Linked DNA regions of Homo sapiens: region 2 is linked to region 1. A link means that fine-mapping ties the variant in region 1 to the expression of a gene that starts in the linked region. Tissue or cell type: whole blood. Region 1 holds a variant in brackets; the other region holds the start of a gene. All regions are shown on one strand. Distances are from middle to middle.

Region 1 (8,101 bases):
AGAGCAGGGGTCCACAGTGGTGCCTGCATGGGAAGCAGAAGAGGGCTGGCATGGAGAAGGGGGGCTCAGTGACCTTAAGCATCTAAGGCCTGATGGTCAACTTGGGTCCACCCTGCAGGGAAGCAGGTGCCCCTGCTGGCCTTCTTGCCATGCACAGGCAGACTGGGCCCTGGACCAGGCCTCCCACTTCCTGCTAATGAGGCGCGGCTCCTCCAAGGGCAGAGGGGCTATGCTCCTGGCAGGCGGGCTAGCACGTTGGTGAGCAAGGGTGAGAGTATGTCTGCCTGTGTTCTTTTAACTTCTGCAGAAAGGTCACCGAGGGGTCTCCATTACGAGCGGTCTTGAGCCCTGTACTATTTTTTCATACAATTTAATCTACTCCCTGGATGGCCTCCAGTGTGTGAGCCACTGACAATCGCAGGTTTTTGCAATTGATTTCCTGGAAGCAGCGGCCCAGCCGGCAGCCACATGATGGATGTATGCTAGGCAACCTGGTTCAGCAGAGGCTGAAGGGGCTTAGGAACCCCAGGCTGCCCTCCCACACCATGGCAAGGTCCCTGAAATGTCGGAAGCATGCACTTCTGCCCTCCAGCTCCACCCTGAATCATCAATGCCTGGAGAACCACTCACACATGTGCACAAAGAGACATGGGTGAGCATGCTCGGTGCAGAATTGTTTGTATGGTAAAAACTGGAGCCACCTTATCTCTTCATCAGGCAGGGCTGCTGCATTCTGGGTGTGGATGGCATCCCCTGGAATTGTGCAGAGGCACCATTTACCATGAAAACCTTTTGACCCATGTCCTCTAGAGCTGGGACCCTGAGTGAGGGGGAGTGAGAGGGGCGTGGTTGAATCAACTGTGTTACAGGCACGCATGGAATATTAGGTAGAGGTTAAAAACAAAAAATGAGGATAGCCAGGTGTGGTGGTGCTCACCTGTAGTCCCAGCTACTCATGAGGCTGAGGCAGGAGGATTGCTTGAGCCCAGGAGGTTGAGGGTGCAGTAAGCTATGATTGTATTAGTGCACTCTAGCCTGGGCAACAGAGTGAAACCGCATCTCTAGAAGAAAGAAAAAAAAAAAAGAGGAAGTCCTATTTTTGTTGACATGAGAAAATGTCCAGAATATACAGTTATGGGGGAAAAGTTGCAAAGCAATGTGGTCAGCATGATCCCCTTCATGTAAAATCAAAGCAAAACAAAGATCTTGACATCATCCCCCTGGGTACATACATGTATTATGCATGTAAACGCCCAGAAGTCTGGGATGATTGGGGAAAACGGTGATATTGGCCGGAAATGGAATAAAAGGAATTTTTCACTTTTCTTTCTTTCTTTCTTTCTTTTTTTTTTTTTTTGAGACAGATTCTTGCTTTGTCACCTGTCACCCAGGCTGGAATGCAGTGGCAAGATAGCTCACTCCAACCTCTGCCTCCCGAGTTCAAGCGATTCTCCTGCCTCTGCCTCCCGAGTAGCTAGGATTACAGGCACGCACCAATACACCCGGGTAATTTTTGTATTTTTAGTAGAGATGGGGTTTCACCATGTTGGCCAGGCTGGTCTTGAACGCCTGACCTCAAGTTATCCACCCGCCTCGGCCTCCCAAAGTGCCGGGATTACAAGTGTGAGCCACCGCGCCTGGCTCACTTTTCTTCTCTCTTTACCTCTGTGCTCACATTTTTTCCCCAGGGAGGGAAAAAAAAATTGTGTAAAAATAAAAAAAGAAAAAGAAACTTCCCTCCTTTCTTCTTTGCCTGTTACCTAACTCCCTTATCCGTCAAATCCTTCCCCAAATTCCCAAATTCCCATTTTTTATCATCTCCTACGGAGAGCAGCTCCCTCCAAAGTTCCTTCCCATTTACTCTCCAAGAACGAGCCCTGGGCAGGAGAGCTGGACATTGCCTGGACCCACATCAAAAGGCTCCTGCTGTGCTGGAAGGGTCAAAGCATCCTAGGCCCATCCTGGCCTTGTGATCTGAGTCTGGGGCTGCGGTGGCCAGGTTGTCCAGTGGACACTGTAGAGGCAGCCTCGGGGTGAGAAGCCCCTCATGTGGACCCGCAGCAGGGGACATAAGTGGGAAGGAACCCAAAGGCTCAGGGGGAAGCAGGGGTGTCGCTACATCAAGTAAAGCTCCTTCTCGCACCTGCCAGCATGCTGGGAGGATGCTACCTCTAGCATCCTAGGGATGGCAGAAAGGGGCAAGCATGGCTCTGCCTCCTGCCTCTGTGCCTGGTGCAGGCTCCACTGTGGTGTGGGGTCTCTGGCAGTGAGGACTAGGCTACAGCCACCACTCTGGCCTGTGAATCCTAAAGGAGCCAGGGCATGACAGTCCCCACTGCCAACCTAGAGTCCCTCAAACTCTCTATCTAGCCTGGCACTGCCTCCCTCGTCCTGCCAGACCCAGGGCAACAGCTGTGACTCTCCAGGGCTGTGCTCTGAGGGAGGAGCCCTTCCATTCTAGAGATTGCATGGTTGCCAAGCCTACCAAGGGCCCAGCCTTCACTGCCCGGGGAGCCTTTGTTTTCTCCTTCCTTGTTCTAGAAGGAAGAATGGGGGCTAGGGGCACGATCATGTACTATACACCTCTTCTGAGATAGGATCCCAGCTGGTTTCCTGATACTTCAGCCCATTCACATTCCTTAACTGCCCTATAGATGAGGCTCACAGACATGGGAGTGATGGGGTGTGATTTGGCCACACAACCCAAAGATATGGAGCTGAGACCCATACCCAGGTCCTTCCATCCCAGGGGCCACTCATTCCTACAATGCCTCAGTGCAGGCTTGCTGCTCTGCAGGCTCAGAGAGGATGCTTACCCTTTACTCCTGGTGAGCAGAGAACCTAGCCACGGAAGGAAGCCCAAAGAGGGACAAGCTCCTGGGGCTCCTGGGGGCCCCCCAGCCCTCCCTGACCCTCCTCTGCGGGGGCTGCTTCCAGGGGTCTTCCTTGCTTCCCAGTCCTCTGCATGCTTCCCTGACACCTCCACTTATGGAGCTCAGACCCTGCTTGCTGGAGTCAGGTCAGCCGGGCCTTGACCCCGCCCCTCCCCTGCTTGTGGATTTAGGGGCCTTTTTGCTGGCATCACCCTGTCCCAGCCAGACCGGGAGGACCCCTTCTTCTAAGCTCTCAGCCCTTCCTGCCAACATCTTTTAGCCAAGATTCAGCGAATCAGCAAAGTCTGACGGTTAACATGGCTCCCATCCCAGCTCTGTCATCACTAGCCATGTGACCTTGAGAATGTCTCGGAACATCTGTCTCCCAGTTTTGTCATCTATAAAATGGGGATGCTAACAGCGATATTCCTAGAGCTGTTGCAAGCGTCAAACATACACATAATTGGAACAGCTCCCCGCTGTGGTTTGTGCTCTGTATATCTTTACTGTTATTGTTATCTTTTTCTTCCTCTGAGCTCCTTCCACAGGATGGGTTATTCTGCAGATCCATGACTGGAAGGAAATTAGAGTGGGCTGGATGGAAACCAGGCCGTGGGCCTGATGAAACTGCCATATGGTGCTTTGCTCAGAGCTGTATACAAGAAGAACAAGTTCATATGCCAGTTGGGTGGTGGTGGAGATTGGGGAGGGAAGTAACAAGGACAGGGCTTTGCATATGCTCTATTTTTTGCCCCCTACCTTCCCCTAAAGCCCGTGGCCTCCAATCCCCATTGTCTCCCTTTCCTTTGGGTCTCTGGGTCTCTGATCGTCTTGTGAAAAACCCCATGGAGAGGCGGGGCAGCTGGAAAGAGGAGGAAGTGAGATGGATAACCATGCTGTCTAGTGGCTGGATAACCATGCTGTCTAGTGGCTGGCGCCCTGCGTGTGCTCAGCTACTGGCAGGTTCTACTGTGGTGTTTAACAGTAACTGTGAGCAGGCTGGGTGCAGTGGCTCACGCCTGTAATCCCAGCACTTTGGGAGGCCGAGGCGGGTGGATCACGAGGTCAGGAAATCGAGACCATCCTGGCTACCACGATGAAACTCTGTCTCTACTAAAAATACAAAAAATTAGCCGGGCGTAGTGGCAGGTGCCTGTAGTCCCAGCTACTCGGGAGGCTGAGGCAGGAGAACGGCGTGAACCCAGGAGGCGGAGCTTGCAGTGAGCCGAGATGGTGCCACTGCACTCCAGCCTGGGTGACAGAGTGAGACTCCGTCTCACAAAAAAAAAAAAACAAAAAAAAACCAGTAACTGTGGGCAAAGCCAATGTGAGTCTCGCAAGCCAACTGTGGTTTGTCTTTATTTCTTTCTCTCTACAAGAGACCCTTAAAAAGAAAGTCATTCTTGATACAAAGCACTGGGAACCCTCACAGTTGGCCCTAAAAACAACCAATAGCTCCTTATCTGGCACATGTATATCTCTTTGTTTTCCCCCGCTGTGTTGCCCCTGAAAATACCATGTCTGTCCTGCTCGCCACTGAGTCCTGATGCACCAAGCATGAACTAACGATTGATCTGCACTTGTAGACAGGGTGATGGAGAAGGGATCTGCAAACTTGGGAGCTTTACCAGAGAGCTAACACCTGTGAAAGGGCCTCATACAGTGTCTAGCACATAGTAGGTACCCCATAAATGCCACTTGACTCTGAGTC[TGG/G]GGGGCTGTTTGGTTGTCACCAATTTTGATGTATTTCTGGGCTAACATGTCCAGCAAGCAGGTGTGACCACACCCAGCCTGTTCAGGCTTAGCCAAAGAACTAGCAGCCAGTCCTTCCTGTGCAATGAGCCCAGCTCCAGCAGCTCACGTTGACTCCACCCAACCAGCTCTCTCAGCGGGTGATACCTGCCTTCTGCTGCGCAGGGTCTTTAATGCAATGTGTCTGTTTCAGGGTTGCCTCCTGAGGAGGGTAGAAGCCACCTCTAGCAACCCTCTGCTCAGCAGATAATGTCCCTTGCTAGCACCGATCCAAGGGGAAACAGGACCCACAGGCCCTTTGCAAAGGCTTCTTGAGGATAAGGAGGTGTTTCCCTCTGGGGTTCCTCTCTCGGCATTGAGGACTAAGGCATTTTCACAGCAACAGAATTCACTGTCTGACTAGTGCTTCCTGGAAGTCAAAACATGGTCAAGATCAGGTGACCAGGGGCCTCTAGAAGCCTTTGTCATAGTCATCTCCATGCTTTTACGTAACTTGGCCAGCCTGGACACACAGGTGACCTGCTACTCCTTGAGGGTTCTTAGGGCAGAGGAACCTCTGGCCAGGCCTCCTGGTGACTGGAAATGATGCGTGCTGAACTGCTGAGCATGCCTGCAAGGCCAGTGTAAACCACCATCCAGCCCCACCCCCACTCCCGCCCCACCTGCAGGCCCCCCTTGGGTACTCTAATGTGCCTGCGCCTGCCCACCTCGGGGCCTTTGTTACACAAAGACTTGCAAGCAGTGGTTCTGAAACTCGAACATGCATCGGAAGCCCCTGGTACGCTCATTCACGGATTCTGGGCCTCTTCCGCAGAGTTCCCAATTCAGTGGGTCTGGGGTGGGGCCTGACAGTTTGCCTTTCTTACAAATTTCTTTGCTGAAGTGGCTCACACCTGTAATCCCAGCACTTTGGGAAGCTGAAGCAGGAGAATTGCTTGAGCCCAGGAGTTTCAGACCAGCCTGGAAAACATGACAACACCTGTCTCTACAAAAAATAAAAAAATTAGGCCAGGCGTGGTGGCTCACACCAGTAATCCCAGCACTTTGGGAGGCTGAGGTGGGTGGATCACCTGAGGTCAGAAGTTCAAGACCAGCCTGGTCAACATGGTGAAACCCCGTCTCTACTAAATATACAAAAATTAGCCGGGTGTGGTGGCTGGAGCCTGTAGTGCCAGCTACTCAGGAGGCTGAGGCAGGAGAATTGCTTGAACCCGGGAGGCAGAGGTTGCAGTGAGCCGAGATCATGCCATTGTGCCCTAGCCTGGGGCAACAAGAGTGAAACTTCGTTCCAAAAAAAAAAAAAAAAAAAATTAGCTGGGTGTGGTGGTGTGCACCTGTAGTCCCAACTACTTGGGAGGTGGGAGGATCACTTGAGCCCAGGAGGTTGCAGTGAGCTATGTTTGCACCACTGCACTCCAACCTGGAAAACAAAGTGAGACCCTGTCTCTAAAAAAAAAAAATTTAAACCAGATTCCTTGGTGATTCTTATGCTGCTAGGCCAGGGGCCACATTATGAGAACCACCAGTATAAGCTATTTCTTCATTTGTCACTTCCTCGGGGAACCCTTCCTTGACCTCACCAAACAGATGAGGTTCTCGTACTAGGTGCTTTCATGGGATCCAATACTTCTCCTTCATGTCACTTATCACATTTTGCATTTACTATAAATTTATAAAAATGTTAAATTGATGTCAGTCTCCCTCTTAAGCCTATGTCTGTTTTACATACCTTTGTCTCCCTGGTACCTAGTATGGCGCCTTGTACATAGTAGATGCTCAACAAATCACTGCTGTATGAATGAATGAATGAGTGAGTGAATGAGTGAATACATGCAAAAGACATTCAGAGGCTTTCCTATGGTCACTATCAGCTCAGGCAACCCTGAGCACTAGGAGAGCATGGCTACTGGAACCAGATTCTCTGGGTTCAAATCCAGTTGGTTATTACTAGCTGTGTGACCTTGAATTGGCTACTTAATCTCTCCACGTGTCACCATTCTTGTCTGCAAAATGGTAATGTTACTAGTACCTGTGAGTAGTTCATAGGGTTGTACGAGGATTAAATGAGCTAATTTGTCTAGAGGGCTTCCTTTTCTGCCTACCACATGTGAAATACTATCCAAGGTGATGGCTTAATTGTTACCAAAGTGCCTGGCACGGAGGCCCCGCTTGCTTTATTTTAATAAGACCCTGGGCCAGGAACGGTGGATCACACCTGTAAGCCCAGTATTTTGGGAGACTGAGGCAGGTGGATCACCTGAGGTGAGGAGTTTGAGACTAGCCTGGCCAACATGGAGAAACCCCGTCTCTACTAAAAATACAAAAATTAGCTGGGCGTGGTGGTGCATGCCTGTAGTCCCAGCTACTTGGGAGGCTGAGGGAGGAGAATTGCATGAATGCAGGAGGCGGAAGTTGCAGTGAGCCGAGATCGCGCCACTGCACTCCAGCCTGGGCGAAAGAGCAAGGGTCTGTCTCAAAACAAAACAAAACGAAACAAAACAAAAAAACAAAGGCTCTGTCTAGGGATCAGCTTCTGGAGCATTTCCTCTGGTCGACTTGGGCAAGACCTAGACACAAGGAAGTAGCCCAGATTTGGGTTTGGATGAACTTTCCCAGAGTGCTCCATCCCCACCTACCAGGCCTCCATGATGGTCACACACAGTGCATGTTGGGCGGTGGAGGGCCTGGCTCCCGCTCCTCCAGCTGCTCCCCACGTGGATGGAGCTGGTGTTTCTGGCCTTCCCTTACCACCACCGGCCTGGTTTGGAGCTGACTCACCGCCAGGAGGGGGTGGTGATTAGTATGCAGGGCGAGTACTGGGAGGAAAGCTGTCTCCACGCAACAACTCTTGATGTGTTTCTCTGATTAATGTGGCAGAGAGAACATTGCAGCTTTTTCCTGAATGGTCGCCACGTGGAGCCGGAGTCATTAGCATTGTGTCTCCTGCTTGCCATGACCCGCTGACCAACCTAAGTAGATAAAAATGAAAATGGCCAAGACAGCTGCAAGGCTCAGAAACAAACTGCCTGGTGGCTTTGCAGCCATGGGAGAGTCTTTTATGTGGAAGGTTTCTGGAACAGCCCTGCCTTCTCCATCCTTTCACACGCCTCCAAAGCCATCCCTAAAGTTTTTGCTTCTGTATCTGCTGGTTCCTAGGGAGGTCAGAATTCCTTTCTCAGGAGTGGAGCCCAAGTGGGGGCACCTGTATTAAAACCTCCCCCAAGGGTGTGTGCTCCAAGCCAAAAGAGTGTGGGAGGAGGGGACAGGGGCTTTAGGGGGAGGGATCAGATTGGGCAAAGGACAGGAGATAAGGGAGCCAGGACAAGGAGGGGTCTGTGATGGATCAACCAGGCTAGGGCAAAAGAGGGCACGAGAAGACCTGAACTGAGAGCAACAGGGAGTTCGTTGTGCAGGCTGGACAGGAGGATAGATTGGGGGCCCAGTCTGGAAGTGGGGAGAACCATGAGGAAGCCGTT
Region 2 (8,101 bases), 35 kb after region 1:
ATGGAAGTCTGTTTAAATACACGTTGATTTCTAACTCAGTGTGTCTGAAGGCACCCCAGCATGTATGTGTGTATATATATCTCCTTTAGTAACAGTGAAGACAGAGACAGACAGGGAGATGGAGACATATGTGTGTGCATACCAAACATAACACCATGACATAGAATCCAACTTGCTTTCTCTAGCAGCCTGGCTGGAGGGTTGTGGCTAAGTTGCTATTTCCCTAATATTTTTGGTTTAATAAAGGGAAGGGCTGAATAAATATTAATGTAAAGAAATGGGTCACCCAACCGAGCCAAAGCTAAGGAGCCCCAGGCTGGCGGGGATGTCAAACCATTTCCCACCCCTATGTTTTGACTCACTCCAGGGTAGCGGTAGTGTGGGGAGGGCTGAAGTCTGGGAGAGTGAGGCAATGCTCCCCAAGCAACTCTTTGCAGAGGAATCACTGCAAAGTGCCAGCAGGCCAGAGAAAGTTTATTATTGCTCTAGAGTGCACAGTGAGCTCACTGTTTTGCAAAAACAGAAATCTGGCTGCTTTGAGATGAAAGAGGGGCTCCCTAGGGCTCCTCCTCCTCTTCTGTCCTTAAAAACTCGCCTTTCCTTTGCACTCAGGGGCCCCAGAATGAGTGGGAGATTGGGGCTCTGGGGAGGGTTGGATAGGGGAACAGGCTCTGGAAGTCAAGTGTCAAAATAAAAGTAAGTATCTCTTGTTGCTTCCACTGAACTTTATTGCAATTACTAGTAATAAGAGTGATAATAGTGATCCTCACAATTTATGCAGTTTACTAAGTACTGTCACATGTCAACCAGCAATAGTACCAACACTAGTATCAATACTAATAATAACTAACACTAACTGTGAGTCCAACACTGCTCTCCATTCTGTATGGTGTATTTAAGTTACAGTCTGGTAGTGACAGATCTACAACTTCTGTATATAGAACTCAGTGGTACAAATGCGCTTGGAAGGGGAGGCTGGGGGTTGGTTATGAAGGTGTATTGGCATAGTACTTACGTAAGATTGTATGTAACACCAAATCAACTGGGGCTGATGGGAATTTTGAGCACCCCAAACCACCTCTGCAAGCCTGAGCTTGTCAAAGACACCTCAAATCAGATTTACTGGATTCAAATCCCAGCCCCATCACTAATGGCTGTAGGCAAGTTATATAGCCTCTTTACTTTCCTGGTTTGTAAAATGGAGGTAAAAGAATCTACCCTGTAGATAATATTAAGGGTTTAATACTGTAATAGGCCGGTCACGGTGGGTCATGCCTGTAATCCCAGCACTTTGGGAGGCTGAGGCGGGAGGATCACCTGAGGTCAGGAGTTCGAGACCAGCCTGGCCAACATGGTGAAAGTCCGTCTCTACTAAAAATACAAAAATGAGCTGGGTGTGGTGGCGGGCGCCTGTATCCCCAGGTACTTGGGAGACTGAGGCAGGAGAATTGCTTGAACCTGGGAGGTGGAGGTTGCAGTGAGCTGAGATTGCGTCACTGTACTCCAGCCTGGGTGACAGAGTGGACTCTGTCTCAAAACAACAACAAAATACTATAGATAATATCCCCTTAATAATGTAGATAATATTAAGGGTGATGCAAGTAAAGCCACCTAGTTTACTAAGGTCCCACGGCAAGTCTAAGTAAGCGTTATCTCTTCTTATGACAAGAAACAAATTGAGGCCGGGTGAGGTGGCTCATGCCTGTAATCCCAACACTTTGGGAGGCCAAGGTGGGTGCATCACTTGGGCCCAGGAGTTTGAGACCAGCCTGGGCAACACGGCAAAACCCCATCCCTTTCCAAAAATACAAAAAAATTGGCCAGGTGTAATGGCACATGCCTGTAGTCCCAGCTACTAGGGAGGCTGAGGTGGGAGGATTACTTGAGCCTGGGAGGTCAGGCTGCTGCCAGCCGCGAGTGTGCCACTGCACTCCAGCCTGGGCAACAGAACAAGATCCTATCTCAAAAAAACAAAAAACCGAAGTTGAAATCTCAAACAACCCTAACAACCTGGGAGCTATCATTCCATTCTCTTTTCCATGGAAAAGAGAGATTTTGTGGGTAACTAGCTTAAGGGTGGAGAGCCAGTTAGTGATGGAGAGGAAATTTCAATCTGGTGGGCCACACTTCAGAATCCGAAATCCCATTATATTGCTTTCCCTTCTCCAGCCTTCCCTGGGATTATCTCAGTTTTCATGAAATAAAAAAAAAAAAAAAAGCAAACCCAATAATTAGAATAATCAATAGAAATGCCCCAACTAGAGCTATGACCAACATATCCATCGTGCCATAAGCAATACTGATGAGCAGTGATCTTGTAAGGCAGAAGAAATCACGGCCTTGGCCGGGCGTGGTGGTTCATGCTTGTAATCCCAGCACTTTGGAAGGCCGAGGCGGGAGGATCACCTGAGGTCAGGAGTTCAAGACCAGCTGGCTAACATGGTGAAACCATGTCTCTACAAAAATACAAAAAATTAGCTGGGCCTGATGGCGGGTGCCGGTAATCACAGCTACTTGGGAGGCTGAGGCGGAAGAATCGCTTGAACCTGCGAGGCAGAGGTTGCAGTGAGCCGAGATCGCGCCATTTTGCACTCCAGCCTGGGCGACAGAGCAAGACTCCGTCTTAAAAAAAAAAAAAAAAAAAAATCACGGCCTTGTTCCGCCTTCTGGGGCAACATGGAGTGAGATCACAGCGCCTGAGAAAGAACTTTGAAAACTGCGGCTGTGCTTTACAAAAATGTATCAGTATTATTAAATGCTGCCTCCACCTTTTAAAAATCAAACTCTAGAAAAAACACTCACCTGTTTGGCCTCTCCGGCCCCTCCCCCTCCCTGCCCTGAACTGCAGCTGTGCGCAGCCAGTTGCCTGTTTTCCTTAAAGGCCTCGGGGTGCTCGTATCTTCTTCAGACGTTCAGCCAAAATTTTTAAAGTGCGGCTGGGGGGAAGGGTAGCGCACTCTGAATTCATTTAGCTCTATCGTTGAAGCCCGGGTTCCTAGATCAGGGCACAAAAACAAATAGAAAAGACAATTTCTGGAAGATTGGAAAACAGCTAATTTTGCAGGTGCTTCGGCATCAGTGGTGGCGATGAATTTAACATCCATGCCGGGGGGGATAAGGTTCAACCGCAGATGAAATGGTTAATACCTTATACGAAATTCACGGCGAAAAATCCTGAAACAGGACATTTAAATTCACTGCCGAGGCTTGGGGGTGGGGTGGGGAGCAGGGATCGGAAACGACGCTAGTGGTTCTTAAATGCGTTTTTACTTGGGAATGCCCGGCAGGGAAAGGAAAGGTCATCGTCTGTTTAATTTCCACCCCCAGCTCTGGACTTCCAGCATTAGCTCGCCGGGCCTCAGCTGTTGTACACACACGGCGAGGGGGGAGGGGAGGGCGGAGGCGCGGAGGAGGGGCCGGCTGGGAGGAATCTGGGCGTCCTGCCGCGCATGCGCCTTGCCTGAGCAACAAGTGGGCTCCACAGAGGAAGTGTAAAGGGGAGGGGGAAGAACTGGTGCAGAGCATGGCGGTGACGTCAGCGCTCCGCCCGGGCGGCATCCCGCGCGGCCAAGCCGGGGACAGCGCGAGCCGCAGCCGGAGCAGGAGCGCCGAGACGCGCCTCCGGAACGTAGAGTAACAATCACAACCCCACATTCCGGGCGAGCGTGAGCACGAGCGGGAAGGGATGCGACCCGGGCCGAGGCGCCGCGCGAGCGCCCTGCAGCCAACGTGAGCGCCGCCAGCCGCGGCGGCCCGGGCGCCGGCCAGGCCTGGGGGCGGCGGGAGCCTGCGTGCGTGCACTCCTCTCCTCTGCTCTCGTGCGTCCTGGAAGCAGTGGCCGCGGCGGCTCCCTCCGGGGTGCAAACCCAGTCGCCGCCAGCAGAACGGCCGACGCTGCGGAGGGGAGAAGGTCCTTTCTCGGCTGCCACCCCCTCCCCCGGTCCTCCGGGGAAGCAGCGGCTTCAGCAAGATTGGACCCGGGCACCGGGTGGCACTGAACCCTCTGGCCCTCGCCCCAGGGGGCCCGTCGGGGAGAGGACGCAGCTCGTAGGGGGGTCCCCGGGGAGAGGAAGAGACAGCCCCTTTCGAGCTTCCACGCACCAGCCACTCCGGGGAGGGGGCCAAGAGGCAACGGCGGCCACCACCGGGCACCCTCGCCCCCTCCCCTCGGGCCGGGAGCTTCCAGCCCAAGTCTGCAGCACCAGGAAGAAGGCGCCTGAGCTCCCCTCGCGACGAGTCAACCGCAGTAGGAGGTGGGGGCGAAGAGAGGGCTGAACCCGTCCGCTGCCCGGGCGGTGGAGCCCCCACGGCGAGGCGCTGCGCCGGCGGTGGAGACTCGCGTTCCCTCCAGCCCCTGGGGCAGAACTTTCTCGCCCCCCCTCCTCCCTCCCCCGCAGTCGGACTCCCTCCCCAGCCGGCCAGTCCTCCCGGAGGAGAAGGCGCCGCGGAGACAGCCCGGGCGGGGGCCTACCTTCCCCAGGGCAGGCATCATGTCGGCGGCGCAGGTGTCCTCGTCCCGGAGACAATCTTGCTACCTGTGCGACCTGCCCCGCATGCCCTGGGCCATGATCTGGGACTTCTCGGAACCCGTATGCCGCGGTTGCGTCAACTACGAGGGCGCTGATCGCATCGAATTCGTGATCGAGACAGCGCGCCAGCTGAAGCGGGCGCACGGCTGCTTCCAGGACGGCCGCTCCCCCGGGCCGCCGCCGCCCGTCGGGGTCAAGACAGTGGCCCTGTCGGCTAAGGAAGCGGCGGCGGCGGCGGCAGCAGCGGCGGCCGCCGCCGCCGCCGCGCAACAGCAACAGCAACAGCAGCAGCAGCAGCAGCAACAGCAGCAGCAGCAGCAGCAGCAGCAGCAGCAACAACAGCTCAACCACGTTGATGGTTCCAGCAAGCCTGCGGTGCTGGCGGCCCCGTCTGGCCTGGAGCGCTACGGCCTAAGCGCTGCCGCCGCCGCCGCCGCCGCCGCCGCCGCTGCGGTGGAACAGCGCAGCCGCTTCGAGTACCCGCCACCGCCGGTGAGCCTGGGAAGCAGCAGCCACACCGCGCGACTGCCCAACGGCCTGGGGGGCCCAAACGGCTTCCCCAAACCAACACCAGAGGAGGGACCCCCAGAGCTGAACCGTCAGAGCCCCAATTCTTCTTCAGCGGCGGCGTCGGTGGCGTCTCGGCGTGGAACGCACGGTGGGCTGGTTACGGGGCTGCCCAACCCGGGGGGTGGCGGAGGCCCCCAGCTCACCGTGCCCCCCAACCTGCTACCGCAGACGCTGCTTAACGGCCCGGCCAGCGCTGCGGTACTCCCCCCACCCCCTCCCCACGCCCTGGGCAGCCGTGGGCCCCCGACGCCTGCTCCCCCAGGGGCTCCTGGGGGCCCCGCTTGTCTCGGGGGTACCCCGGGTGTATCGGCCACGTCGTCCTCCGCGTCGTCTTCGACCTCTTCGTCGGTGGCAGAGGTGGGCGTGGGTGCTGGTGGTAAGAGGCCCGGCTCGGTGTCGAGCACAGACCAGGAGCGCGAGTTGAAGGAGAAGCAGCGCAACGCCGAGGCCCTGGCCGAGCTGAGCGAGAGCCTGCGCAACCGCGCCGAGGAGTGGGCCAGCAAGCCCAAGATGGTCCGCGACACGCTGCTCACGCTGGCAGGCTGCACGCCCTACGAGGTTCGCTTCAAGAAGGACCACTCGCTGCTGGGCCGCGTTTTCGCCTTCGACGCCGTCTCCAAGCCCGGCATGGACTACGAATTGAAGCTGTTCATTGAGTACCCCACGGGCTCGGGCAACGTGTACTCCAGTGCATCTGGTGTGGCCAAGCAGATGTATCAGGACTGCATGAAGGACTTCGGCCGGGGCCTATCCTCGGGTTTCAAGTACCTGGAGTACGAAAAGAAGCACGGCTCCGGGGACTGGCGCCTGCTTGGAGACCTGCTCCCCGAAGCCGTGCGCTTCTTCAAGGAGGGCGTGCCCGGCGCCGACATGCTGCCCCAGCCCTACCTGGACGCCAGCTGTCCCATGCTGCCCACTGCTCTGGTGAGTCTGAGCCGCGCCCCCAGCGCACCCCCGGGGACCGGGGCCTTGCCGCCCGCCGCGCCGTCGGGCCGGGGCGCAGCCGCCAGCCTGCGCAAGAGAAAGGCCTCTCCGGAGCCCCCGGACTCAGCCGAGGGCGCGCTGAAGCTGGGCGAGGAACAGCAGAGGCAGCAGTGGATGGCGAACCAGAGCGAGGCGCTGAAGCTCACCATGTCCGCCGGGGGCTTCGCGGCGCCGGGGCACGCGGCGGGGGGTCCGCCTCCGCCGCCCCCACCTCTGGGACCCCATTCCAACCGGACCACCCCACCTGAGTCAGCCCCCCAGAACGGTCCGTCCCCTATGGCCGCTCTCATGTCGGTGGCAGATACTCTGGGCACAGCGCACTCGCCCAAGGATGGCAGTTCCGTGCACTCTACCACTGCGTCGGCGCGGCGAAACAGCAGCAGCCCAGTCTCGCCGGCCTCCGTGCCGGGGCAGCGCCGCTTGGCATCACGTAACGGGGACCTGAATTTACAGGTGGCGCCCCCGCCGCCTAGCGCCCACCCGGGCATGGACCAAGTGCACCCCCAAAACATTCCGGATTCCCCCATGGCCAACAGCGGACCCCTCTGCTGCACCATTTGCCACGAACGTTTGGAGGATACGCATTTCGTTCAGTGCCCTTCCGTCCCCAGCCACAAATTTTGCTTCCCTTGCTCTAGAGAGAGTATCAAGGCCCAGGGGGCCACCGGCGAGGTGTATTGCCCCAGCGGAGAGAAATGCCCCCTAGTCGGGTCGAATGTACCTTGGGCCTTCATGCAGGGCGAAATCGCGACTATCTTAGCTGGGGATGTTAAAGTGAAAAAGGAGAGAGACCCTTGAACCACTGGGCAGCCACCTCCTTTGCCCTAGACCAGCTCCTCTCCAATCCTGAGGGCCCCTCCCCCAACCCAACTCGACCCTCCCTCCCCTCACCCCCAAGGTGTAGAATTGTGAATATAACGAAACTGCAAAAAGTTAGTCTTATGTATAGACATTATTTTCGTCGTATGTTTCTATATTTTGAAACAAAGGTATGTAACTTCTTCATTTGAAGGATAAGCTGGTTTGTGTTAAGCAGTATAGTATTGGTTGGGTCATTTGCATCATATCGTTAGCATTTATTTGGTGGCAGAATGTTTGCCTAGGTACAGAATTAATAGCCCTTAGCAACGACTGCTGCTGGTGTGTATTTTTGTAAATGTTATGCACTCTCTGAAAGGAAAAACACACACAAAAGAAAAAGACTTTTTTTTTTTTTTTTTTTTTTTTGCCAAGGCCAGTGTTGCTGCCTAAAAAAAAAAAAAAAAAAAAAAAAAAAAAAAAAAAATGCTATAAAATGGTGAAAGCTTCCTTCTAAACTGCCCCAAGTGTTGAAGTCTTCACTTTATTTTGTTGTTTTGTTTTGTTTTTCTGTTTTGTTTGCAAAATGGTAAGGGGGTGTCGGGGGGGATGGGGTGTATTTTGTTGCAAGTTTGTGAGGGGAAAATGTTTTGGTTTGTTTCTACTGACCTGAATGTGTTGGATCTACACGTGTTGTTTTGTTTTTGCTTTATTGATGCACGGATGCTTTTGAACAGTAGAGCGAAATGCTAGACATGGAGAATCTGCTCTGTTTGTCCTTTATACATTTCTGTAGTTAACAGAACACTGTAATGTGCCTTGGAGCTTAGTAACTTGTAATAAATTCAATTGATATTAACTGCGCTGAGTCAGCAATTTTGTCTTTCTAGGGCTAAGGCCATGCAACTCCGACGTAGGCGACACCCTCCCTACCTCCAGTATAGAACGAAAATCCTAGTGCTTTTGAAAGCCCTGGGAGCTGGCCTGTGGGAAAGGCCCTGTGCTGCCTTGCTGCCCCTCCCCCTCGGTACCAGGCTATTTAAATTCACCTCTTGGGGAGGCGACAGTTGCTGACTAAGCGATTTCGGTTTACTCTTCAGCATCTCTATTTTCCCCCGGATGCGGGCCCAGCTGCAAATGGCATTGTCAAGAATGCTTTCTGGTGCCTCGCCCTGTGGCGGTGAACATAGGCTGACACCCAGTGCAGCTGGTGACTTGAC

Evidence for each region. PIP is the estimated chance that this variant, and not a neighbour inherited with it, causes the effect.
Region 2: it holds the start of IRF2BPL, and the variant in region 1 is fine-mapped to the expression of IRF2BPL in whole blood (TOPMed, PIP 0.99).

Annotation. Positions count from the first base shown.
Region 1 is chr14:77,059,031-77,067,131 of GRCh38, reverse strand. It overlaps LINC02288 (long intergenic non-protein coding RNA 2288), which reads right to left. Exons shown (of 4, transcript NR_110554.1): 2 at 7,404-7,594; 3 at 938-1,061; 4 at 1-23. Among named protein-coding and RNA genes, the nearest start is that of LINC02289, 13 kb to the left of the region's middle. The variant TGG/G (reference allele first, on the strand shown) is at 4,585.
Region 2 is chr14:77,024,182-77,032,282 of GRCh38, reverse strand. IRF2BPL (interferon regulatory factor 2 binding protein like) reads left to right here and starts at 3,575. Exons shown (of 1, transcript NM_024496.4): 1 at 3,575-7,740. The coding sequence starts at 4,491. The coding sequence ends at 6,881. LOC107984638 (a long non-coding RNA gene) reads right to left here and starts at 4,815. Exons shown (of 4, transcript NR_190002.1): 1 at 4,472-4,815; 2 at 2,803-2,995; 3 at 2,547-2,622; 4 at 711-2,456. It overlaps LOC105370579 (a long non-coding RNA gene), which reads left to right. Exons shown (of 2, transcript NR_169510.1): 2 at 1-724. RefSeq lists an enhancer at 2,002-2,522 and silencers at 3,286-3,415, 3,616-3,825, 3,946-4,445, 8,011-8,101.